7 linked regions of the Homo sapiens genome follow. The protein of the gene in region 7 purifies or fractionates together with the protein of the main gene of each other region. This does not show direct contact. Each region holds a gene or a part of one and is shown on either strand. Other genes may lie near its edges.

What was found.
Region 1: the proteins of RABEPK (region 7) and TRIOBP purify together in Homo sapiens (affinity purification with mass spectrometry; one large-scale study listed by BioGRID and IntAct). This does not show direct contact.
Region 2: the proteins of RABEPK (region 7) and VGF purify together in Homo sapiens (co-immunoprecipitation; one large-scale study listed by IntAct). This does not show direct contact.
Region 3: the proteins of RABEPK (region 7) and GOLGA4 purify together in Homo sapiens (affinity purification with mass spectrometry; one large-scale study listed by BioGRID and IntAct). This does not show direct contact.
Region 4: the proteins of RABEPK (region 7) and DHTKD1 fractionate together in Homo sapiens (co-fractionation; one large-scale study listed by BioGRID). This does not show direct contact.
Region 5: the proteins of RABEPK (region 7) and CCR6 purify together in Homo sapiens (co-immunoprecipitation; one large-scale study listed by IntAct). This does not show direct contact.
Region 6: the proteins of RABEPK (region 7) and GMEB1 purify together in Homo sapiens (affinity purification with mass spectrometry; one large-scale study listed by BioGRID and IntAct). This does not show direct contact.

What each region holds. Positions count from the first base shown.
Region 1 is NC_000022.11:37,703,548-37,707,047, reverse strand, and holds part of TRIOBP (TRIO and F-actin-binding protein), read right to left. Parts: intron 1-3,500.
Region 2 is NC_000007.14:101,162,770-101,167,043, forward strand, and holds the start of VGF (neurosecretory protein VGF precursor), read right to left. Parts: upstream 2,801-4,274; 5' UTR 2,605-2,800; exon of another isoform or gene 2,217-2,604; intron 2,095-2,216; 5' UTR 2,075-2,094; coding exon 227-2,074; 3' UTR 1-226.
Region 3 is NC_000003.12:37,298,771-37,302,270, reverse strand, and holds part of GOLGA4 (golgin subfamily A member 4), read right to left. Parts: intron 3,439-3,500; coding exon 3,251-3,438; intron 2,984-3,250; coding exon 2,900-2,983; intron 87-2,899; coding exon 1-86. UniProt on the Homo sapiens protein: Involved in vesicular trafficking at the Golgi apparatus level. May play a role in delivery of transport vesicles containing GPI-linked proteins from the trans-Golgi network through its interaction with MACF1. Involved in endosome-to-Golgi trafficking.
Region 4 is NC_000010.11:12,075,454-12,078,953, forward strand, and holds part of DHTKD1 (2-oxoadipate dehydrogenase complex component E1), read left to right. Parts: intron 1-3,500. UniProt on the Homo sapiens protein: 2-oxoadipate dehydrogenase (E1a) component of the 2-oxoadipate dehydrogenase complex (OADHC). Participates in the first step, rate limiting for the overall conversion of 2-oxoadipate (alpha-ketoadipate) to glutaryl-CoA and CO(2) catalyzed by the whole OADHC.
Region 5 is NC_000006.12:167,126,096-167,129,595, reverse strand, and holds part of CCR6 (C-C chemokine receptor type 6), read right to left. Parts: intron 3,292-3,500; exon of another isoform or gene 2,951-3,291; intron 2,448-2,950; exon of another isoform or gene 2,269-2,447; intron 1-2,268. UniProt on the Homo sapiens protein: Receptor for the C-C type chemokine CCL20. Binds to CCL20 and subsequently transduces a signal by increasing the intracellular calcium ion levels.
Region 6 is NC_000001.11:28,716,819-28,719,853, reverse strand, and holds the end of GMEB1 (glucocorticoid modulatory element-binding protein 1), read right to left. Parts: 3' UTR 501-3,035; downstream 1-500. UniProt on the Homo sapiens protein: Trans-acting factor that binds to glucocorticoid modulatory elements (GME) present in the TAT (tyrosine aminotransferase) promoter and increases sensitivity to low concentrations of glucocorticoids. Also binds to the transferrin receptor promoter.
Region 7 is NC_000009.12:125,217,542-125,221,041, reverse strand, and holds part of RABEPK (rab9 effector protein with kelch motifs), read right to left. Parts: intron 504-3,500; coding exon 342-503; intron 1-341. UniProt on the Homo sapiens protein: Rab9 effector required for endosome to trans-Golgi network (TGN) transport.

The sequences.
Region 1 (3,500 bases), on a different chromosome or scaffold from region 7:
GATCCACCCGCCTCGGCCTCCCAAAGTGCTGGGATTACAGGCGTGAGCCACCGCGCCCGGCCCAGTGTCAGTTTTTTACTATCACATCTGGTATACACAGGGAGCTGCTACCTGCCCAGAGTTGGGTCCCAGGGCCTGGCTCGGAGACACAACAGTCACCCCTCATGCATTTGCCAAAGGAGAGTTTCACAGCCTTGATCATCATCAGAGCAACTGGAAGCTCAAGAAAGTGGAGGATTTGATGTCGTGCCCCTCTCTGATCTTTTTTTTTTTTTTTTAAGATAGTCTTGCTGTGGCAGTGGCATGATCACAGTGCACTGCAGCCTCAATCTCCTGGGCTCAAACAATCCTCCTGCCTCAGCCTCCCAAGTAGCTGGGACTGCAGGCATGCACCACTACACCCAGTTCATTTTTTGTTTTGTAGAGATGGGATCTCACTTTGTTAACTAGGCTGGTCTTAAACTCCTGGTTTCAAGCCATCCTTTAGCCTCAGCCTCCTAAAGTGCTGTGATCACAGGCGGGAGCCATTGTGCCTGGCCCCCTCTCTTGAAACCATCTCTGGTCTTGGCTCCTGGGGAGGAGGGGCACACTGTGGGGTTTGCCTCCTAGCCTCTGGCCTTCTTGGCTGTCTCTGCTGATTCCCTGGCCTCCACCCAGGCCTGTTCTCATCTCATTCCACACTTTCTTCCACAGATGATAGGCTCATCCGTGAGCAAGACTTTGGTCAGTGACAGATCCTGAAGACTCGCAGGCCTCCATCTCCTGTGATGGTCTGGCTCTGAGCTCCAGCCCCACCAATTCACTAACTTCCCCCTCATCTCCACTGTATCCTGCCGACACCCCACACCATGCCCCAGACAACTCCAAACAGACCTCCCAACCCAAGTACCCTGCCTGAAGAAATTACAGGAGTCAGCCATGGGTTTCTCCCCTCCCTCACCCCCAAATCCTGTAGACGTGCCTGCTCAATTAGTTCGGAAATGTGTCCATTTGCCTCCATCTCAAAGCCCCAATCATCTCTGGCACCGATGAGTACGTGCACCTTTTCCTGGCGGGTCACCTGATTCACTCTCACCACCCTGCCCTCCATTCTCTCTGCCCAGCAATCAGAGTGACTGTGAAAAATGCAAATCAGAGCACGTCACTCCCTTATTTGAAATCTTCCGTGGCTTGGCCGGGCGAGGTGGCTCACACTTGTAATCTCAGCACTTTGGGAGGCCAAGGAGGGCAGATTGCTTGAGGCCAGGAGTTCAAGACCAGCCTGAGCGGCATGGTGAAACCCCATCTCTACTAAAAATACAAAAATTAACTGGGTTTGGTAGTACATGCCTGTAGTCTCAGCTACCTGGGAGGCTGAGGCAGGAGAATCGCTTGAACCTGGGAGGCAGAGGTTGCAGTGAGCCGAGATCACGCCTCTGCACTCCAGCCTGTGCGACAGAGCGAGACTCCATCTCAAAAAAAAACAAAAACAAAACAGAAAAAAACCTCAGAATCCTAAGTCCTCAACATGTCCACAAAGCCGCACAAGGCCAGTGAGACCAGGCCTCCCCCCATTCTCCATCCTTGTCCTATAGCTCCTCTGTGCCCCCCTCTTGCCTGTCCTCTCCAGCCCGATGTGCAGCCTCCTTTCTGCCTCAGGGCCTTTGCATATTCTTTGTTTGTTTGTTTTGTTTTGAGAGGATTCTCGCTCTGTTGCCCAGGCTGGAGTACAGTGGTGCAATCTTGGCTCACTGCAACCTCTGCCTCCTGGGTTCAAGAGATTCTCCTGCCTCAGCCTCCTAAGTACCTGGGATTACAGGCACCCACCACCACATGTAGCTAATTTGTGTATTTTTAATAGAGATGGGGTTTCACCATGTTGGCCAGGGTGGTCTTGAACTCCTGACCTCAGGTGATCCACCCGTCTCGGCCTCGTAAAGTGCTGAGATTACAGGCATGAACCACTGCACCTGACCTGTTTGTTTGTTTTGTTTTTGAGACAAGGTCTCATTCTGTTGCCCAGGCTGGAGTGCATTGGCATGCTCATGGCTCACTGCAACCTTGAACTCCTGGGATCCAGTAATCCTCCCACATCAGCCTTCTGACTAGCTGGGACTACAGGTGTGCACCATCCTGCCTGGCTAATTTTTTTTTTTTTTTTTTTGGTAGAAATGGGGTCTCACTGTGCTGCCCAGGCTGGTCTCAAACTCCTGAGTTCAAGTGATCTTCCTGCTTCGGTGCCTCAATCCAAGCACTTCCTCCCAAAGTGCTGGGATTACAGGCGTGAGCTGCCGTGCCAGGCTGGCCTTTGCACATTCTCCTTCCTTCCTCTCCTCTTCCTGCAATTTCACTAATGCTAATGCCTGCACAGCCTTTACTAAGCAGCTGAAATGTCATTTTTTTTTTTTTGGAGAAACTTTCCCTAATGCCCTATCCTTTACCTTCATGCCACTTACTGTTCCTTTATACATTTATCACAACCAAGATTAAATAATCATGTGCATTTCTCTTGCTAGAATATAAGCCCCATGAAGACAAGCCAGGGATGTGTCCCTCTCTCCTCCTCTCCTCCTCTCTCTCCCCCTCCCCCTTCCCCTCCCCCTTCCCCTCCTTCTCCCTGTTTTCTGTACTGTTCTGTTCTGTTCTGTTCTGTTCTGTTCTGTTCTGTTCTGTTCTGTTCTGTTCTGAGTCAGGGTCCAACTCTGTCACCCAGGCTGAAATACAGTAATGCGATCACGGCTCACTGAAGCCCCCGCCTCCCAGTCTCAGGTGATTCTCCCACCTCAGCCTCCTGAGTAACTGAGACTATAGCCGCATCCCACTACGCCCAGCTAATTTTTTAAATTTTTTGTAGAGATGGGGTTTTGCCATGTTGCCAGGATGGTCTCAAACTCCAAGTGATCCACCCACCTTGGCCTCCCAAAGTGCTGGGATTACAGGAGTGAGTCACTGTGCCTGGCTGTGCCTTTCTGATTTATCATGATTTCCCCATCATCTAGCATAATGCCTGGCACATTTTAAGCACCTATTCAGTACGTATGAATTTGTGAGCTGACCCACGGTCTCGGGTGGGAAATGGTGGGATTGAGACTAGAACTCAGACGAGCCTGAATCCACGGCTCTCCTGTTCCATTCTTGCCATCTTCCCAACCACTGGAAGAAAGTCATTTGCATGAAAGATGGACTCCCAGGCATCTGTTCCCTGAACCTGAACTTGCAGGTGAGCACAAGAGAGCTATTATTGGAGGTATCAAGACTGGTAGAAGCTGGGCGCGGTGGCTCATGCCTGTAATCCCAGCACTTTGGGAGGTCGAGGTGGGCGAATAACGAGGTCAGGAAGATCGAGGCCATCCTGGCTAACATGGTGAAACCCTGTCTCTACTAAAAAGACAAAAAATTAGCTGGGCGTGGTGCCGGGTGCCTGTTGTCCCAGCTACTCATGAGGCTGAGGCAGGAGAATGGCATAAACCTGGGAGGCCGAGCTTGCAGTGAGCCCAGATCGCACCACTGTACTCCAGCCT
Region 2 (4,274 bases), on a different chromosome or scaffold from region 7:
CGCCCTCCTGGGCTGGCCCCCGGTCACCCGCGGGTGAGCTCTGGGAGTTCGGGCTCAGGACCCGGGAGGGGGGTCTGGCAGGTCCCGACGCAGCCCGGGGACAGGGGCAGGGCCAAGGGGCAGGGCCGGGGCGCATGCAAACACCGAGGGGGAGCGGGCAACACGGAGGGGGGCGCCGGCGCGCGCGCGCGGCGGGGGCGCGCGGGGGCGGGACCGGGAAGGGCAGTCACGGGCGCCGGAGCAGCACGTGCTCGATGTAATTCTCCAGCTCCTCCTGCTCCTGCAGCCGGCGCTCCTCCGCCTCCGCCTCCTCCTGCGCGCGCCGCGCCTGGGCCTCCCGGCCGGGATAGTGGCGCGAAGGCGGCAAGGCGTGGTGGTAGTGGCGGCGGCGCAAGGCCGAGGGCGGCTGCAGTGTCCGCGGCCGGATGTAGTTGGGGAAAGGGTGGTACGGCCCTGGCGGGTACACCTCGTCCTCCTCCCGATCCCAGGGCGGGAGCACCTCGTTCCAGTCCGGCAGCTCGTCTCGTGCGGGAGCGGGGGCGGGGGGCGGGGGCTGCGGGGAGCGGACGTGGGTGGGGGCGGGGGCGGCACGGGGGGGCGGCACGGGCTCGGGAGGGGCGTTCTTCTTCCGCTTCCGCTTCTCCTCCACCTCCTCGATGATGCTGACCACGTCGTCCGCTGGCAGGTGGAGTTTGGTGGACAGCTCAATGAGGCTGTCGATCGTCTGCGGATCCATCTCCTCGTCGTCCTCCTCCTCCCCGCCCTCCTCTGTCCCCTCGGCCTCCTTCCGCCGGTGGCCCGGCGTCTCCTCCTGGGAGCGCTTGTCCTCGGCGCCGGCTTCCCCGTCCTCCTCCTCCGCGAACAGGAGCGCGTTCTGCCGCGCCCTCTCCGCCTCCTCCGCCTCTGCCTCCGCCTCGGCCGCCTCCTCATCCTCTTCCCCCACCCTCTCCTCCCCGCCGCGTCTCTCCTGCTCCGCCTCCTCCTCCTCCCTTGCACTCTCTCGCTCCTCCGCCGCCTCCTGCAGCCCCCGACCCCCGAGGCCGCGCTGCCGGGCCCCGCCCTGCAGCAAATACTGGAGCAGCAGGTCCGAGGCGAGGTCGGCCAGCCGCTCTTCCTGCGCCGCGGCCTGCCGCGTGGCCTCCGCCTGCCGCCGCCCGGCCTCCACCTGCGCCAGCCCTTGCTGGAGAAGGCGCTCGCCCGCCTCGGAGCCGCCCAGGAGTGCGCTCTCCGGCCGGCGCGCCTTGGGGAACGGGGCGGCCACGCCTTGGTACGCCTTGGACAGGGGTGCCAATGCCTCGCCTAGGTGTGTTTTGGGGGAGGACACTCCTTCCCCGAACTTGTGGGTTTCGGGAAGGGGCCCGCTGTCGGGCATACGCGCCTGGAATTGAGAGGGGGCCGGGGGCGGCAGGGGCGCGCGCTCCGGGACACGCGCCTGGAACTCTCCCCAGGAAGCGCGCCATACGCGCTCTGGCCCCGGGCTCTCCAGATTCACTCGGGTCAGCGTGTGCGTGCGGGTTTCCGTCTCTGCTGCCGCCGTCTCCTGCTGGCGCTTGGCGCTACTTGGACTGAAATCTCGCAGTTCCTGGAGCAGGGACGCTAGCGCCTCGAGCTCCTCGGAGGGATCGCTCGCCTCGGGCCCATTCTCCGGAGTCTGAGGGCGAGGCGGAGCCGCGGGCTCCGGGCTCTCCGGCGCCGGGAGGCTGTGGGTCTGGCTGCGCACGGTCTCGGTCAGCAGAGCTTCAGCTGCTTCTTCCTCCGGCCCCTGCTGGGAGCCGCTTGGTGCCGGGGGTGAGGCGGGACGGTCGAGTGCCTGCAGCAGCACCGCGGCCAGCGCCCGGGGATCCACGCCCTGGAAAAGCTCTCCCTCGTCCTGCGGCTCGGAATTCCGAGCGCCTCGGACCTCTGGGGCGCTGCCATCCTTTGGCCCGGGCACTGCGTCCCCGGCTACCGGCTCTTTATGCTCAGAGCTGAGAGGAGGAGGCTGCGCCTCAGGGCGACCAGGGGGTGCTGCCCCTAACCCGTTGATCAGCAGAAGGCAGAAGAGGGCGGAAGCCGACAATCTGAGGGCTTTCATGACCAAGAGGCTGCCGGAGACTGAAAAATAGAAGGGACCAAAAAAAGAGGATTTCTGTAAGAATTCCCCTCTCTAGGTCTACGTTCCCTTCCCCCACCTTTCAGCAGGAAACCCGGGGCTTCCCTGATCCCCCAAACCTTACCCAGAAGAGGAACGTTTAGGAGCAAAGGAGGAAGATGTTGTGCCGATCTCTGGAGCCGTGTAAATGGGAAAATAACCCCCGAAGCCCTCGCTTACCCAGGGCCTCCTCGGCCCCTTCCCTGAGCCATCTCACTGCCATCGCCCACGTACTAAGCAGCAGCAATATGGGGGAAAAAAAAATCTCTGCTCCCTCCCCGTAGGACTCCCCGGATGGTGCGTGGGCGACTTCAGCAGCAAGAGAAAAAGCTGCGACTCCCCCGTTTACCGGGGACCCTTACCAGGGGGCTCCCCGCTGTGTTTGCAACACCCCCATCGAGAGGAGAGAGAACCCTCCCTCACGCCCACGGCTGGCTGCCGAGGGTTTGAGGGACGAACAGCGGAGTATTTACCAGCTGGTGTCACGACGCGAGAGGTGGAGAGGAGGGTCGGGGCAGGGTGGGGACAGGGGAAGATCGGGACGCGTCCGCCTCGGCTCCGAGCGGTGGCCGGGGTAGGAGCGACGGTCGAGGTCTGGCGTCCCGTGGGCTGGGCTCAGCTGGGTCGGCGCGGCTCCGGGCGGCTAGCTCGCTCCGGCTTCAGCACGCTGGACAGCGCCCGCGCCTCCACCGCCTTATAAAGGGGAGCGCGCGGGGTCACGTGGGCGCGCCCCGCCCCATTGACGTCAATGTTCATTCATGGGGAAGCGGGCGGCCGCCCGGAGGAGGAAGGACGCCCGACGATTGGAGGGTGCCTGCCTCTCCCGGCCTGCGCCTGCGCGCTGGGGCCTTCGGCTGAAGGGGTGTGCGCTAGCGGAGCTCCGGGAAATGAATGAATGAATGAATGAATGAAATGCTGAAGCGGGCAGGGCGGGGGGCTATGAATGAATGAAGGAGGGACGAGGAGAAAAGGATGAATGAATGAATGGGAGAATGAATGGAAGGGTGGATGCAGAGGCGCTGGAAGGCGGGAGGGTGGGTTGCAGAGCAACTTGGAGCTGCTGGATGGAGCCCGCGTTGCTGAGTGGAATAGAAAAAGGGTAGTCCCAGCGTCTGACTGGGCACCAGTGGGAGCTCAATACTGGGGAGGGGAAGGATAAAGATTCAAGAGCCGACCAGGGGGCCGGGTTCCCCACCCCGAGACCACGCGCCCAAGGACGGCGTGAACCTGAGTGCAGAGGGACAGATCTGCACGCCTGCGGGCGCTGTCCGCGAATCGGCAGTGCGGGTGGCAGCCCCCTGACAGGGGCAGATGGGTGGATCTTGCGGTTTTGGTAATCCCATCGGGAAGGGTCCGAGTCGGAAGAGAAAAGGGAAAGAATGAGGATGTGTGTGCCTCTGGGTCGTGTCTGTTTCACGATCCGTGCTGTGTCTGGAGAAAAAGGTGTGTCTGTCCTTCTGTCCCCTGACTGCCGCTTGTGTCAAGGCCCCCCGCTGTGCCCCCTTCGGCCCATCTCTTCCCACACTCCCCCAGTCGCTTTCCCTCCTGCCGCTCCCCTCCCCCAAGGACGTTTGGAGGGCGAGACCAGAGCAGGTGGGGAGGGGGTTGCGCAGGTGGGGGGGGGGTGACTCAACTCCAGCTCTCTCCACCGCTTAAAGGGAAGGTTTGAACGCGATGGGAGGGGGACCTGCAACGTCAGAGATAGCCCCTCTCTGCCACCAGCCCCTTCGACCGTATCTCCTGCCAGAGAGGTTGGGGCTGGGGGCTTGGACAGCTAGAGGTTCCGGGGGTGGGGGGCGATGACGCACAGATTTGCGCAAAGAGAATCCATCAGAGAGCTGGGTCCGGTGAAGGGAGACCAGCCGTGGGCGGGGGTGGGGGGGAGGACGGAAATGGGGAGGGGGCAGGGGAGAGGAGAGGGTGGCAAGGGGGGCAGCCACTGCAGGAATGAAGGGGAGGGAGGGAGGAAGCCTGGAGGGGGCTGCGGTGCTGGCAGAGAGCGGTGCGGGGGCGTGGGCAGGGAAGGGGGGAATGACAATGACACACGCCAGACACACACGAACTGCGGACATAGGGGTGCTCGTGGGCACACGCAGGGCACCCGCACCCTGAGACTCTGGAAACCAAGGTCAGGGCTGTCTGT
Region 3 (3,500 bases), on a different chromosome or scaffold from region 7:
ATGCGACTACGGAGTTGAGCAATTTCTTCTTCTTTCATTTCCAGGGTTTCATGCATCTGACGTTTTGTCTCTGCGATTACCATTCCCTGAATAGAAGTGAAGACTCTAAAACATTTGCATAACAAAACTGCATCATCAACAGCACAGATAAAACTTAATTTAAAAGGCAGAAAAAGGCCGGGCATGGTGCATGGTGACTCATGTCCATAATCCCAGCACTTTGGGAGGCCAAGGAGGGTGGATCACCTGAGATCAGGAGTTCGAGACCAGCCTGGCCAACATGGCGAAACCCTGTCTCTACTAAAAATACAAAAATTAGCCAGGCATGGTGGTATATGCCTGTAATCCCAGCTACTCAGGAGGCTGAGGCAGGAGAATTGCTTGAACCCAGGGGGCAGAGGTTGAAGTGAGCTGAGATCACGCCATTGCACTCCAGCCTGGGTGACAGAGTGAGACTCCGTCTCAAAAAAAAATTAAAAATTAAAAAACAAAAAATAAAAGGCAGAAAAAATGATATTTCTTGCTAAGTACAGCATAACAATTATTTCAATACTTCACAAACTGAGGTCTGTTTTCTGCTCTAATCCTATTACCTAGCATAACAGTATTTTTTACATTAAAAATTTTAATAGTTTAATCCTTAAAGCATTAAAACATTATTACTTAAAAGATTTATTTTATAGCCTTTCTACAAATGTGCTATCTGTCTTAGTAAACAGTTTATAATGAACAAAATATAGTCTTCTGAACCTGGCTTGGCACTACAATAAACTACAAGTATTGATCTGTACTATAACATGGGGATAACCCCAGACACTTGAGAATGGAAGGTGCCTGCTGCCACACTGGATAAAGCAAAATCCCAGGACACATCTACCTGGTTCTTCTCTTTCTTCCTGTGACTGTCTCTGGTACCACCACTATTCCTTACTTTGTAAGGCATCTCCATTCCTCCAACTTGCTAGTTACTTCTGTTCCCTCTTTCTGGATAATCTACACTAGAAATGGAGGTCGGCAGGGGAAAAAGACAACTAAATGGTATACAGTAAAAAAGTCATTTAGGACTAACAAAAAATGAGGTGGTTCACTTGTCTCTTGAAAAAATGTTCAGACTTTGTGACAACAATTTCATGGTCTTAAGATTAGCACCCTCTCCACAGGGTTTGCCAACCCTTGCTTTAGAATATGACTCTTCCAGATGGCTAATATTAATGGAGAGACAGAGAGATAACAACCACGTAAGTGAGGCACTGCTATATGAAATCTCAAAACAAAATCATGGGCTTTCAGTTTCTTCAAAAACCAAAATATAGTGGAAAGAGAAGGAGAGAAGATAATCAAACCAGTAAATTAAAAGAAATCTTAAGAGTCATATCAACCAATTGCAATGAAAAAACTTTATTTGGACCCTGATTCATAAAAGAGCAAAAAATATATGAGAAACTAGAGAAAATCTGAAACTGACTAGATAGCAGGTCATATTTTAAAATTATTAAATTTTTAGATGTGATCATGATAATGTGGTTATAGTATTGTAAAAATAATGTCTTTTATTTTAAAGATATATTAAAATACTTTTGGAAAAAAATGATAAAATTTCTTGGATTTGCTCTAAAACAATTCTGGGTGAGTAGGACAATGACAGTTGAGAAGGTACAGATGAAACAAGATTAGTCATGAGATGTTAACTGTTGAAGCGGGGTGGTGGGTTCAAAGAAATTCATTTTAGCAGCTTTTCTTTTGTAAATGTTTTAAGTTCTTCATTATAATATTTAAAAAAAAAAACAATTTAAGTAGGCCCTCAAGAAGTGTATAATCTAGCAAAGCAGTATTATCAAAAGGATGAAAAAGATTGCCAATACATTTTAACAGCAGGACAGCTCTGACATGTTCTTAATTACGTGACCACTTAAAATACTCTAGTGATAACCCGGCATATTAAAGAAAATGGTGGATGCTATGGAACAAACTGGGAGCTGCTTAGAAAAAGGACCCAAGAACTTGGAGCTGAAAGACAGGTCAAAACTGTTTACCCATGAATTTTCTGGTTGTCTTTGCTGCGTAGCTTTAGCTGCTGCTCCAACTCCAAACTACCAAAGGTAAGACTCATTCCTTCCTCAATCCTCTAATCTCATCTACACATTCTAAAATTCATTTGTAGACATTTTTATTTATGCTAATATATACATTATCACTTATTTTTGTTTGTTGTTTTTTTAAGAGACAGGGTCTCACCCTGTCACCCAGGCTGCAGTACACTAGTGTGACCATAGCTCACTGTAGCCTCTAACTCCTGGGCTCAAGCAATCCTCCTGCCTCAGCCTCCCGAGTAGCTGGGACCACAGGCATATACCAACATACCCAGCTAATTTTTTTTTTTTTTTGTAGAGAGGAGGTCTTGCTTTACTGCCCAGGTTGATCTTGAACTTCTGGCTTCAAGCAATCCTCCCGCCTCAGCCTCCCAAAGTGCTGAGATTAAAGGCATGAGCCACTGTGCCCAGCCCCTTATTTATTTGTTAGGCAACTTATCTGAGAGATTAATCTGTTTCCATATTATCTGAAAGAACATACTGATATCATTCACATTTATAATGCCTTAACTATAAATAACTTTTCTCTGTAAAGTAGTTATGTACTATAAATATAAACTTCCTTTGCAACAGTTATTCTAGTCTACAAATCATAATGCTGACTGGGATCAAGAAATCAGAGAATCAGTTTTACATGACACAAAACTAATGCTAGTAGTTACAAAAATCTAGAAATTAAAGATTTTTCATGGAAAAAGCTGCAATAATTTTTAGAAAACAGAAACAAGCATGAATGTTTCCAACTGTTTCCAAAAGTAAATGTTGGGGCCTCTTGACAAATTTTAGTATCATAGGTTTTGTTGTTTTACCTTATCTTGTTCAAGCTGTTCAATTAAGTTCTTTGCATCACGCAACTGAGTGATAAGTTTAGTCTTCTCGGCCATATGAAGGTCCTAAAAAAAATTTTTAAATTCATTTCCATCTCTAATAAAGCTTCTTCTCATTTGAGAACTCTAAACATTTATCTAATTTATATACATGTTACAGTGCAGAAGGAAAAAAGTACACAGTAAGTCTCAAGGTTTGGTGTTATGTAGGCCAGGGCAAACAAAAATGCCCTTTCCATCCACTCTCCTCTCCCGGAGGTACAAGCCATGCTGTGGAGCCTGTGGATCTAACTTTATAGATTAAATTAGAACAAAACTCATCTGCTCTTTTACCTTTATCTTTTCTAGTTCTTGAAGTCTTTCATCCAGTTGTTCTTGCAGAGCTTCTTTTTCACTAGTTAATAGTGTACATTGTTCCTTATGTGACTGAATTGTTTCCTTACAACGCTTAAGTAGGTTCTCTTGACGCTTCACTCTTTGCTGGAGTGTTTCCAGTGTTTTTACAGAAGTTCCATCTTCCACTAACAATAAAGCAACATAAGAAGGGCCCATCAGTAAGGAATATGAAACTGCCTTTGGAAAA
Region 4 (3,500 bases), on a different chromosome or scaffold from region 7:
ATGGTCTCGATCTCCTGACCTTGTGATCCGTCCGCCTCGGTCTACCAAAGTGCTGGGATTACAGGCATGAGCCACTGCGCCCATCCAATTTTTGTATTTTTTGTAGAGACAGGGTCTCACTCTGTTGCCCAGGCTGGTCTCAAACCCTTGACCTCAAGAGGTCCTCCTGCCCCAGCCTCCCAAAGTGATTACAGGTGTGAGCCACAATGGCCATCCAGTAATAGGAAGTATTTTATGAATAATTCTATTGCTGTGCTCTCATTCTTTTAAATTTTATTTTTATTTATTTTTCTATCCTTCCAGGGAAAAAGAATTAAATCTTTTAATTTCATTCTTTATTATAAAGGTAATACAGTTGAAGTACGTTTTATCTAGAGCATTTGAAATTGGAACTTGATCAGTTAATTCCATTTATTTTTATTTTACTTCTTTTTTTTACTTCTTTTGTTTTTTCTTTTAAAACAATTTTGACAGAGCGAGACTCTGTCTCAAAAAAAAAAAAGGAAAAAGAAAATAAAGCAATCTGAATGCAAAATCTCTAGATTTTTCTGATTTCTTCCCCTAATTTTACTTTTTCCCACAGCAACAGTCTTAGGGACAAATAGAACTGATTCTTATAAGCACAAAGTCAACTGATGAGAGCAGTGCTGCATATGCTAGAGAGAAGCCACAAACCAAAGCTTTTAGAGTGAGTGCATCAGGCAGCAAGTCCGCTAAATGGCTGCATTCGAAAGAGCTTTATTGCCGAGTGCGGTGGCTCACGCCTGTAATCCCAGCACTTTGGGAGGCCGCGGTGGGCGGATCACGAGGTCAGGAGATACAGACTATCCTGGCTAACACGGTGAAACCCCGTCTCTACTAAAATACAAAAAATTAGCTGGATGTGGTGGCACAGGCCTGTAGTCCCAGCTACTTGGGAGGCTGAGGCAGGAGAATCGCTTGAACCCAGGAGGCAGAGGTTGCAGTGAGCCGAGATGGTGCCACTGCACTCCAGCCTTGGCAACAGAGCGAGACTCTGTCTCAAAAAAAAAGAGCTTTATTGTACATGTTCACTGTGGAAAACTGTGAGAATACAGTAAGCAAAAAATAGCAAATCTGCCTGGGTGTGATGACGTGCACCTGTAATCCCAGCTACTTGGGAGGCTGAGGCAGGAGGATCTCTCGAGCCCAGGAGTATGAGTCCAGCCTGGGTAATATAGCCAGACCCTGTTTCTTTTTTTCTCGGGACGGAGTTTTGCTGTGTCGCCCAGGCTGGAGCGCGGTGACGCGATCTCAGCTCACTGCAAGCTCCGCCTCCCGGGTTTACGCCATTCTCCTACCTCAGCCTCCCGAGTAGCTGGGACTACAGGTGCCCGCCACCACGCCCGGCTAATTTTTTGTATTTTTAGTAGAGACGGTTTCACCGTGTTAGCCAAGATAGTCTCGATCTCCTGACCTTGTGATCCTCCTGCCTCCGCCTCCCAAAGTGCTAGGATTACAGACGTGAGCCACCAAGCCCAGCCAGCCAGACCCTGTTTCTGATAAAAAAAAAAAAAAAAAAAAGGAAGAAAAAAGAACAAGTCGGCAATTTCTACATAGGATTATCACTTAAATTTTTGATCAGTTTCTTTTGTTTATGAAAAATATATGTGTGCATATATATAAGTATATATAATTACATATACTAATACATATACTATAAGATGAAATATATATTATAAACTACTCATATGTACATACACAGTGTAACAATGTAGGTGCATGCTTTATATGTTGTGGTCATTCATTAAGTGTTTTTTGTTTTTTTTTTTTGAGATGGAGTTTCATGCTTGTCACCCAGGCTGGAGTGCAATGGCACAACCTCGGATCACTGCAACCTCTGCCTCCTGGGTTCAAGCAATTCTCCTACTTCATCTTCCTGAGTAGCTGGGATTACAGGTGTCTGCCACCAGGCCTGGCTAATTTCTTGTTTTTAGTAGAGACAGGGTTTCACCATGTGGGCCAGGCTGATCACAAACTCCTGACCTCAGGTGATGAGGTCACCTTGGCCCGCCTTGGCCTCCCAAAGTGCTGGGATTACAGGCATGAGCCACTGTGCCCGGCCATTCATTAAGTCTGGATGCTTTTTCATCAATCATTCTTCTACAATATTATTTTTTAATGGCTGTCGGCAATTTGAGATGAGTTAATGCCATTGCTTGTTCCTCAGAGGATGGGTTTATAAAGAGAGAACTAATGATAGGGAGATGTCAATGAAGAATGAGGAGGGCCTACGTTTGTCTTCAAGATTGGAGGGTGCGGGTGAGGGCCACTGAGTACCTTCACGTCGTACTCATGCTCTCTAGGGACAGCCAAGTTCTGATTAAACCCAGGAGTGTGAGGAACGTTCAGAGAGGTTTGTTTTTCATGAAACAGAGTGCCAGAGGTCTCGGTGGAAGGAGGTGGAGACAGAGAGGGAAGGGGTTGGAGATAGGGTTGGTGGAAGAAGAAACCTGCCCGAAGAAATGGTAGTCTGAGGGAGCATGTGTTGCCAGGGTGAATGGAGGACGTGCCTGACATGAGAGAGGACTTCCTCTTTCTGCTGGTGCCAAACTGCTACATGCCTCATGTTCTTTGTGGCAAGGAGGGTTATTTTGTGCCAACTTCTGTGTCAGTATTCTAGTGTATCATTAGCAGCCTGGCTAGTGAGTACTTAGAAATAGAAGCAGTGGGCCAGTCACAGTGGCTCATGCCTGTAATCTCAGCACTTTGGGAGGCCGAGGCGGGTGGATCACCTGAGGTCAGGAGTTGGAGACCAGCCTGGCCAACATGGTGAAACCTCTTCTCTACTAAAAATACAAAAATTAGCCAGGTGTGGTGGCACGTGCCTGTAATCCCAGCTACTCCGGAGACTGAGATGGGAGAATTGCCTGAACCTGGGAAACAGAGGTTGCAATGAGCCATGATCGTGCCGCTGCACTCCAGCCTGGGCAACAGAGCAAGACTCCACCTCAGAAAAAAAAAACAAAACCAACAAAAACCCCACAAAAATTAGCCGGGCATGGCGGCACGCACCTGCAACCCCAGCTACTTGGAGACTGAGGCAGGACAATCGCTTGCACCCAAAAGGCGGAGGCTGCAGTGAGCTGAGATTGTGTCACTGCACTCCAGCCTGGGTGACAGAGTGAGACTCCGTCTCAAAAAAAAGAAAAAGAAATAGAAGCAGTGATCTCTAGGCATTGACATGGGTTCTTCTCTAAGGGGATGTTTTCTTTTTTCTTTTTTTGAGACAAAGTCTTGCTGTGTCACACAGGCGGGAGTGCAGTGGCACCATCTCGGCTCACTGCAATGTCTACTTCCCAGGTTCCAGCGATTCTCCTGCCTCAGCCTCCACAGGCACGTGCGACCACACCCGACTAATTTTTGTATTTTTAGTAGAGATGGGATTTCACCATGTTGGCCAGACTGGTCTTGAACTCCTGACCTCAAGTGACCCACTGGCCTCGGCCTCTAAGGGGACGTTTTCAATATGGCTGCTGGTT
Region 5 (3,500 bases), on a different chromosome or scaffold from region 7:
AAAAATATTCAGGGAATGTTGCAGTGAATTTGCCTGACTCCAGCGAATGGTGCCTGTGAAGTCCAGGAGCATAGAGCTGGTGTAAGGAAGCTCAAAACCCATTTGCAGAGAGAAAGAAGATAATGCCTCCGAATGAGGTAAAATGTTGGCTGTTGGTTCTCAGCAGGGTGTTGAGGGCATTATGAAGCAAGTGCAGGAGCGTCTGGAACGGAAGTGGTGGGCCCTTGGGGGTCAGCGTGGGTTTGGTAACACTCAGTCATGTCACACTGATTTCCAAGCCTTGGTGGTAACAGTCAATAAACTGCAGATCAGGGAGGTGTTACAGACATTGAACACTTACGATAAAATCTGAAACTTATAAGCAATCAAGAAGAGGAACCATGATCCAGGTGCAAGTACAATTAGGTGGCTTGCTAGGTGTCTGGACAATTGGCTCTGTGACACCACTTTGCTGGCAGGCTGGCACAAGGCCCTATGGACACTGCACTGATTTCGGCCTTCAGCTGTGTCCTGCCCATTGCTTCTATTGATGAGAGGGGCAAAAAGAGAGGAGGCAAGTTCATTAGATCTGAAGATGTCAAGAAGCCTAAAAAGATAATTAATATATTGGATGACAGAATCAATGTACAAATATTCTGGACAGAATCAAGCAATGGGTAAATCTAATGTTGTAAAATTCAGTAGGGAAAATAGAAGCTTCTCCACATAGCTTTAAATAAGCAGGCCGCGTGCATTGGCTCACACCTGTAATCCCAGCACTTTGGGAGGCCAAGGCAGGCGGATCACTTGAGGTCAGGAGTTTGAGACCAGCATGGCCAACATGGTGAAACCTTGTCTCTACCAAAAATATAAAAAAATTAGCTGGGTGTGGTGGCACACATCTGTAATCCCAGCTACTCAAGAGGCTGAAGCAAGAGAATCACTTGAACCTGGGAGACAGAGTTTGCAGAGAGCTGAGATTGTGCCACTGCACTCCAGCCTGGGTGACAGAGCAAGACTCCGTCTCAAAAATAAAAAATAAAAATACAAAAATAAATAAGCAACTACACAGATATAAGATGAAAGTGCAGCAGCAGCAAAAATCTTAAGAATTTTATTTGCTAGTAATCTCACCAAGAGGCTAGTTAATCAGTACTATGTGGGCGCAGACATCCAGCCAGCTGGAAAGCCAGCCAGCTCTGCTCACCTCTGGGTACTCTCCACCGTGGTCACTAAGGCTTTCCAACCCAATAATAGATAGAGCGCGGAGGCACCGGACACAGGGGACAGCACTTGTCGGCAGAATCATGGCCCCATGTCACGCTTGTGGTTAGCGGAATCATGGCCCCCTGCCCAGGCCCTGACACAGGCACCAGAACCTGTGTACGTGTTGCCTTACACAGCAAAAGGGATTTTGCATATGCAATGAAGTCAAAGATCTAAGGGCCTGGAGGTAAGCAGAGATCATGCTGGATTATCTAGTTGGACCCACTGCAATCACGAGTCCCTAGAGGTGAAGAGTCCTTCTCCCTGGAGACGGGAGAAGAAAAGATTCAAAGGTGAGAGATTCAATGTATTGTTGCTGGAGTTGCAGACAGAAGAGGGGGCCACAAGCCGAGCCATGTGGTTGCCCTGAGAAGCTAAAAAGGCCCTCTGCTGACAGCCAACGTGAATATGAGGATCTCAGTCCTACAGTCACAAAGAACTGAACTCTGCCCATGACTGGATTGGGCGAGGACCAGATCTCCTTGTAAACATGCAAATAGTACTTACTAGTGGAAAGAAGCCTGGGAACCCCTATCTAAAAGCACAGAATAGCTGGGCACAGTGGCTCACACCTGTAATCGCAGAACCTTGGGAGGCTGAGGTGGGTGGATCACTTGAGGCCAGGAGTTTGAGAACAGCCCAGCCAACATGGGATGCATCTCTCTGCCTAGTGTTTTTGTTATTGAATCATTAGTAAAGTTTGACATTAGGTAAGATCTATAGATCCTATGGATGTCTGCTTTGAAGATTCAAATCCTTGCATTAACACAATCTCTGTATTATTCTAATGCATACTTCAATTTAGGAGCTGTTTCTTCTTAGGGAATTCATGCATCCAGCATCTAAAAGTGAGTTCCAAGAGATGCTCTGGGTAAAAAGAAGGGAGGGAGACAGACAGGGGTGGGAAATGATTTCTCTGTGGCTAGTATATTAAGACATTAATAAGATGCTAACTACATCCTTCCCTAGTTTATTCCTATTAGAGCTTGTTTATCAGTGGCCCTTCAGAGCCCTGCTGGAATAACTCACTATTTCCCAAACCTTCTCACTCACAGAACCTTTTCAGTTCCTGTTCTTTGGAAACACTTTGGGAAATTTTTGAGGCCAGGAGTTCCAAGCTGCAGTGTGTGATTATCGTGTCTGTGAATGGCCACGGCACTCCAGCCTGGGCAACATAGCAAGACCTCATCTCTTTAAAAAAGGTAGTTTATTTATATGATGATATAAATCATATAATCTGACTATATAATCTATATAATTATAGATGTATGATTATATAAACCATATGATCAATAAGTTGACTGTATTAGTCCGTTCTCACACTGCTAATAAAGACATACTTGAGACTGAGTAATTTATAAAGGAAAGAGGTTTAATTGACTCAGTTCAGCATGGCTGGGGAGGCCTCAGGAAACTGACAATCATGTCAGAAGGGGAAGCAAACACATCCTTCTTCACATGATGGCAGGAAGGAGAAGAATGAGTGCCCAGCGAAGAGGGAAGCCCCCTGTAAAACCATCAGATCCCGTGAGAACTCACTCACTATCACGAGAACAGGATACTGCCCCATGATTCAATTATCTCCACCTGGTCCCTCCCACCACACGTGGGGATTATGGGAACTGCAATTCAAGATGAGATTTGGATGGGGACACAGCCAAAGAATATCACTAACCTAGAGGACTCTTCATTCATTCATCCAAAGACAGGTCTGAGCAGCTCCTAGGGGCCAATCCCTATTCGAGGCAACAGCAGAGGGAAGACAAGAAGATGGCTACATGCACCCACCACCTGACTGCAGCAGCTCACAGGCCCCCCAGGGCTGGCATTGCCTGACCCAGGGAATGTGGCAAGGGGTGCCACCAAGGCAAACACAGGAGGAATCTTTAGACGGTGTGCTGGTCCCCACACCAGCCTCTGACTTGAAGTGCCTCCATTCCCCTAGCAAATGCATGAAACAAAAGTTGTGCAGGCCTCACGTCTGATTGATTCTCTTCTCTTTGTGGACATACGTTAGACTTAGAAATAAACTCGTATTAAAAGATATTTTTAATGGCTTTTTCTTCCCTTACTTAGAGGCAAATAATGATAAGCTATACTTCAGTATGTATTTTAGGCTTGAAATCATATAAATAAACTACCTTTTTTTAGAGATGGGGTCTTGCTATGTTGCCCAGGCTATAGTGCAGTGGCCATTCACAGGCACGATAATAGCACACTGCAGCCTCAAACTCCTGGCCTCAAGCTATCCTACC
Region 6 (3,035 bases), on a different chromosome or scaffold from region 7:
TTCAGACTACACAAAAATTTCCCAGGGAGGATTTCCCAGGGAGGAACTAACCTGGAGTAAGGGATGTGCTGCACCTCCAGGGAAGTGATCAATTGTACTAGGAAAGTTGTCTCAAAATGCAGGAGCTAGGCTAGTGTATGACATTATGTCTCAGAGAGGACGAGTTCCTCAAACTGCCCAAGGTGAATCACAACCTCATGCCGATTTTCAGAATTCAACCTTTCCTTTGTCCTTTCCACCTCTCTGATAGTACTAAAACCTGGATGCTATAACTCAACTACTAATTCCACATTTCATGCTTGACTTTTACTATCTTTATAATCAACACTCTCCACCATAGTCTTACCTTTAATGCCTTTCATGAAATGGGATAAAATGCTACCACTAGTGGGTGTCAGAACCACCTGAACTGAATATTAATTTTCCAGATGTTTGGATTAACATTGGTCCTCCTTCCCTAATAAGGACAGAGGTGCAAAAGAACCTTCATATGAAGTGGCTTTGAATCTTGAATATTCATGTTTATTGTCCATTTTTTACTTCAGAATGACTGGTGTTTTTAGGAGTGGGTGGAGCTTGGAAATTGAGAAAGGGAAGAGAACAAGGCAGGGACCAAACAGGGACATGGCCAAGACAAGACAGTTGTACAGCTGACTCTCAGGCCTTCGTGGAAACCATATGGCAGGAAGGCTTTGGGGGCATTTACCCTTTGCCAGCTAGACTCCAGTCCTGCACTGGATTCAACACTGGATCCCATCTGATGGAAACTTGGAGAAGCCCATGCATGACTCAGCGTTCTCCAGTGGGGAGACTGCCCATGTTGCTGACTCTGCCTTGCTTTGCAGGCAGAAGCAAGAGACTGAAGACTTTTTCTCTAGAATAAATAAGCCCAATTACTTGAAAATCAAGTAGTACAATAAACCTAGCCAAAAGTGGTCTCTCCTAAATCAGCTTAGGTATATGCCTTCTCCAGGAAGATCTCCCTTATTTGCTGACCCCACCTCTACACCGCTAAGCTGGGTTAGGCACTTCATGCTTTGTTCTCTCAGCTCCTAGCCAATAGCCCTATCACACACAGCACTTACGCAGTAGGATCTGTTTCAGTACCTCAGTAAAGGAGAGCTGCTTGTTTGTGCCTTTGGCAGTCTGCTGAAACCTATGAACCAATTCTTAAATAATGTTTTTCAATGCATAAAATACATAAAATTACAAAAAAAAACAATTATAATGAAATGTGTAGTTTTGGTTTTCTGAGCTGGGGATGTTGCCCTGTTACCTGGGCTAGAGTACAGTGGCAAAGTCATAGCTCACTACAGCCTTGAACTCCTAGGCCCAAGCAAAATCCTCTTGCCTCAGCATCCTGAGTAATTGTGTCTACAAGTGCGAGCCACAAGACTTGACTAATTTTTACATTTTTTTATAGAGATGGGGTCTGGCTATGTTGACCAGGCTAGTCTTAAACTCTTGGCCTCAAGCAATTCTGCCTCAGCTTCTGAAAGTGCTGGGATTCTAGGTGTGAGCCACCATGCCTGGCTGAAATATGTATTTCTTAACTCCAGACATCTGGAGTATGAATTCCTTAAGTGCAAGGACTATGTCTTCATCTCTCTACTGTCAGTGCCTAGCACAAAGCCTGGCACATAGATGGTTCTTAAAAATGTTTATTCAATGCATGAACAGAAAGACAAATGCCTACTACCAAGTCAGCCTAAGGTTCATTGCAACTGCTTATGCACATACCAATGGCTTGCATATGTCTCACCCCATCTAGGATCATCTAGACCAGGGCTGTAAGGGAACCTACATTCAACAACAGGTGCCATAATATCTAACAATAATGACAGGCTATTGGAAGACCAGGAAAACAACAAAGCTCATGTATTTCACCAGCTGGAAAATTCATCTAGTAAACAGGCTGTTTGAGGAAATCTCTTGACATTGGAAGCATGATGCACACACGACCTTAAAACCCTACCAATAGCTCTGATGGAGGAAAGAAGGGAACCTGAGCTAGCACGTTGGTATTCACGAGGGCTCTTCTGTCCTGAATTGGTCCTCTCATCTCTGGGAAAGAGAAAAGTGTCCCTAAAAACCACAATAGGGATGAGATGTGCCTTCCTAGATTCAAGTAGATTCAGTCTGAGACAGCAATTTTGTTTTTATGTACCAACAGAAAACCTAAACAAGCAGGAAATAAAAGCTACTTCCCTCACTAAAGATATATTAAGGGCCAAATATTTGTTCTAAATTGATTGCTAAGTCTATTAGATATTTTGAAAAGAAAAATAAAACCCCAGACTATTTAAAAACTGAAATCTACAACTGTATGGAGTTCATAAATCTCATTCTTAAGAGTCACCTTCAGGCTGGGTGCGGTGGCTCATGCCTGTAATCCCAACACTTTGGGAGGCCAAGGCGGGCGGATCGCTTGAGGTCAGGAGTTCAAGACCAGCCTGGCCAACATGGCAAAACCCCGTCTCTACTAAAAATACAAAAATTACCCGGGCGTGGTGGTGGGAGCCTGTAATCCCAGCTACTCAGGAGGCTGAGGCAGGAGAATCACTTGAACCAAGGAGGCGGAGGTTGCAGTGAGCTGAGATCACACCATTGCACTCCAGCCTGGGCTACAGAGCAAGACTCCATCTCAAAAAGAAAAAAAAAAAAAAAACAGCAACCTTACCATGTTACAGGGTTTCTTTGACTACATACAGCCATCTGAGGGATGGAGAATGCAACTTTTACTTGCTCGATGGGGTTTCCAACATCTGTTGGAAGAAACATGGCTTCTGAAAGGTGCCTTCTTAAAAATAAAAAAGAAAAAAAAAAACTACAGGTCCAAGTTTTGTTTTTAATAAAAATATTCCTCCCACTCTTAAGGTGTGTGCTTTCTTTTTTGACCTATTTTTCCTTAAATTTGTCTGTAGTTTCCCTGTATCTCTATATTTTTCCTAGTGCAGTAAACAATGCAATCAAAGAAATAAAAACCAGGGTCCACTCTTGCCCCAAACACTGAAGAGGGTCAAAGAGAAGAAATC
Region 7 (3,500 bases):
TTACAGGTGCATACCATCATGCCCGGATAATTTTTGTGTTTTTAGTAGAGAAAAGGTATGTTGGCCAGGCTGTTCTCGAACTCCTGACCTTAAGCGGTCCACCTGCCTCAGCCTTCCAAAGCTCTGGGATTACAGGTGTGAGCCACCATGCCAGGCCTCACTATCCCTTTTTAAATGCCAATTTTGCTGTGGGAAAAAGATATCAGCTAAGAGATATAACAAAGAAGTCTAGAAGTGAGACACTTAGTCAGGCTTTCCTTTTCTAACTTCTGCTTCCTATATTAGGTAATGTGTAAACTGGGATGGCCCTGACCAGCCCCAAGGTGCCCACCAGTCCATACTTGCGTCAAACACATGCAGCTTCGTGTCCTGCACGGGCTGGGCACCTCTCTCTCCGCCCCCAAAGACATATAGCTGGTTTCCAATGGCTGCCGATGATGTGTGGAATGTTCTTGGGGATGGTGGGGGGCTGGTCACTTCTGGCGTGGTCCACGTCCTGGTTTCTGGGCCAGAGAGAATGCAGGCACTTAAAATATCCAGGTAGAGGGGCTTCTGACCTTGACTCTGGGGCTGAGTGAAGTCAGTTTCCAAACTCCAATCCCCAGGGGGGCCAGCATAGTTTTGGGCAGGGATCTCATACTCACAAACATCAAGGAAGAATGAAGATGATACTTAGGATTTGCCAAGACAGTCCAAAATCCCCAAGATTTAAAAGCTGTAAGCACAAGAATGGAGTCAGGCTGGGTGCAGTGTGGCTCATGCCTGTAATCCCAGCACTTTGGGAGGCCAAGGCGGGCGGATCACTTGAGGTCAGGAGTTCGAAACCAGCCTGGCCAACATGGGGTAAAACCCCATCTCTACTAAAAATCTGAAAAATTAGCCGGGTATGGTGGTGGGGACCTGTAATCCCAGCTCCTCAGGAGGTTGAGGCAGGAGAATCGCTTGAACCCAGGAGGTGAAGGTTGCAGTGAGCTGAGATTGCACCACTGCACTCCAGCCTGGGTGACAGAGCAAGGCTCCATATTAAAAAAAAAGAAGAAAAAAAAGAGGTCAATTTGTTTTGGAGGCCTTCAAATATCCTCTCTGAACCCTCTTCTACTTTGCTCACTATCGCTCCCCCTAACATCTGCTAACATTCATTCCCACTAGATGCCAGAGTCCAGGTGTGCCAGATTTCCCAGAAAATGTGGCCAATAAAAGAAAGTAGGCAGGCCATGTGCAGCAGCTAACACCTGTAACCTCAGCAGTTTGGGAAATCGAGGTAGGAGGATTGCTTGAGCCCAGGAGTTTGTGACCAGACTGGGAAACAAAGCAATATCCTGTCTCTACAAAAAATCAGCCAGGGGTGCAGTGGCTCACGCTTGTAATCCCAGCACTTTGGGAGACCAAGGTGGGTGGATCACTTGAGGGTAGGAGTTCTAGACCAGCCTGGCCAACATGGTGAAATCCCATCTCTACTAAAAATAAATAAATAAATAAATAAAGCCAGGTGTCGTGGTGGGGACCTATAATCCCAGCTACTCAGGAGGCTGAGACAGGAGAATCACTTGAACCAGGAGGCGGAGGATGCAGTGAGCTGAGATCATGCCACTGCACTCCAGCCTGGTTGACAAAGCGAGACTTCATCTTAAAAAATAATAATAATAAAATAAAATAAATTAAAAATTAAAAAAAATTAGGCTGAGCACAGTGGCTGTAAGGCCTGTAACCCTAGCACTTTGGGAAGCCAAGGCAGGAGGATTGCTTGAGCCCAGGAGTTTGAGGCTGCAATGAACTATGATCGTGCCATTGCACTCTAGCCTGGGTAAAAGAGTAAGACCATATCTTGAAAAAAAAAAAAAAGAAAGAAAGAAATGAAAAAAAAAAAAAGACAATACTATTACATTTCAGTAGCAGTAATAACAGTCCCTACTAAACAGTAAATGCTAAACAAATATTAATTTCCGCATTTTACAGGTAAGAGAATTGAAGTAGGGATGGATTAAGTAACTTTTTAAAAGAGACATGGCTAGCCAGGCTCGGTGGCTCATGCCTGTAATCCCAACACTTTAGCAGGCTGGGGCAGGTGGATTGCTTGAGCCCAGGAGTTTGAGACCAGCCTGGGCAACATGGCAAAACCCTGTCTCTACAAAAAAATACAAAAAAAAATTAGTCGGGTGTGGTGGCGTATGCCTATAGTCCCAGCTACCTGAGAAGCTTAGGTGGGAGGATATACTGAGCCTGCAGCGGTTGAGGTTGCAGTGAGTCAAGATCACACCACTGCAACTCCAGCCTGGGTTACAGAATAAGGCAAAGAAAGAGAGAGAGAAAGAGAGAGAGAGAGAGACAGATAAAGTGACATGCCTAAGAAATGGCTGAGTTGGAATTTAAACTCTTTCAGTAACACCAAGATCTTTCTAATTCCCACTCCTCTGACTGGAGAATAAAATTTCACCACCTAGATAGATGTATAGAAGCTTATTTCTTTTAAGGATGAACCTGGGTTTTATAGAAGCAGATGCATTAATTGAGCACCCTCAATGGGCAGCATCATTGCCCTGGGCACTGCCATCCCTGGTGTCTTCACTCAAGCTTGGGAAGTGAGCGGAAGTATCTCTACTTTTAGATGAGGAAACTGAAGCTCTGCACATTTAAATCCTTTCCTGCAGGTTATAGCATATGTGCGTAGCAGAGCAGGAGTTTGAACTCAGTTCTTTTTTTTTTTTTTTTTTTTTTTTTTTGAGACGGAGTCTCGCTGTGGCTCCCAGCCCAGAGTGCAGTGGCGCGATCTCGGCTCACTTTGCAAGCTCCGCCTCCCGGGTTCACGCCATTCTCCTGCTTCAGCCTCCCGAGCAGCTGGGACTACAGGCATCCGCCACCATGCCCGGCTAATTTTTTGTATTTTTTTTTTTTTTAGTAGAGACGGAGTTTCACCGTGTTAGCCAGGATGGTCTCGAGCTCCTGACCTCCTGATCTGCCCGCCTCGGCCTCCCAAAGTGCTGAGATTACAGGCGTGAGCTACCGCGCCGGGCCTGAACTCAGTTCTATCAGAGTCCCACACTTGCTCTACCATAACACACCAAGAAATTCTGTCTTTTGTAAAAGGTCTACATCCAATATATAAAATGCTACAGGAAACATCTGTAATATGTGTGGGACTCAAATGGGGACCTGGAGACTGAAAAAGTCTCAGCCTATATCCAAAGCAAAATGTAGCTGTCTCTATAGTTACAGATGTTGGAGAGCTTTTGGATCTTAGAGGGAGCTAGAAAGGTATACATGTCACCTCCAGGCCCAGAAGACCCTAGGGCTGTATTCCTGCCAACTCAAACACCAGCACAAAGAATCACAAAGGAGTCCTGAGCATTTGAGGGACTTGCCTTGGTAACAAATGCAACTAAGTACATATTTCATATTTCTTGGGCATGATGTCAAATTATATTTTCTAGGAGAGAAAAGGGATATGATAGAAAATCACCCTCTTTAATATAAAAATTAGCTGGGCATGGTGGCATGTGCCT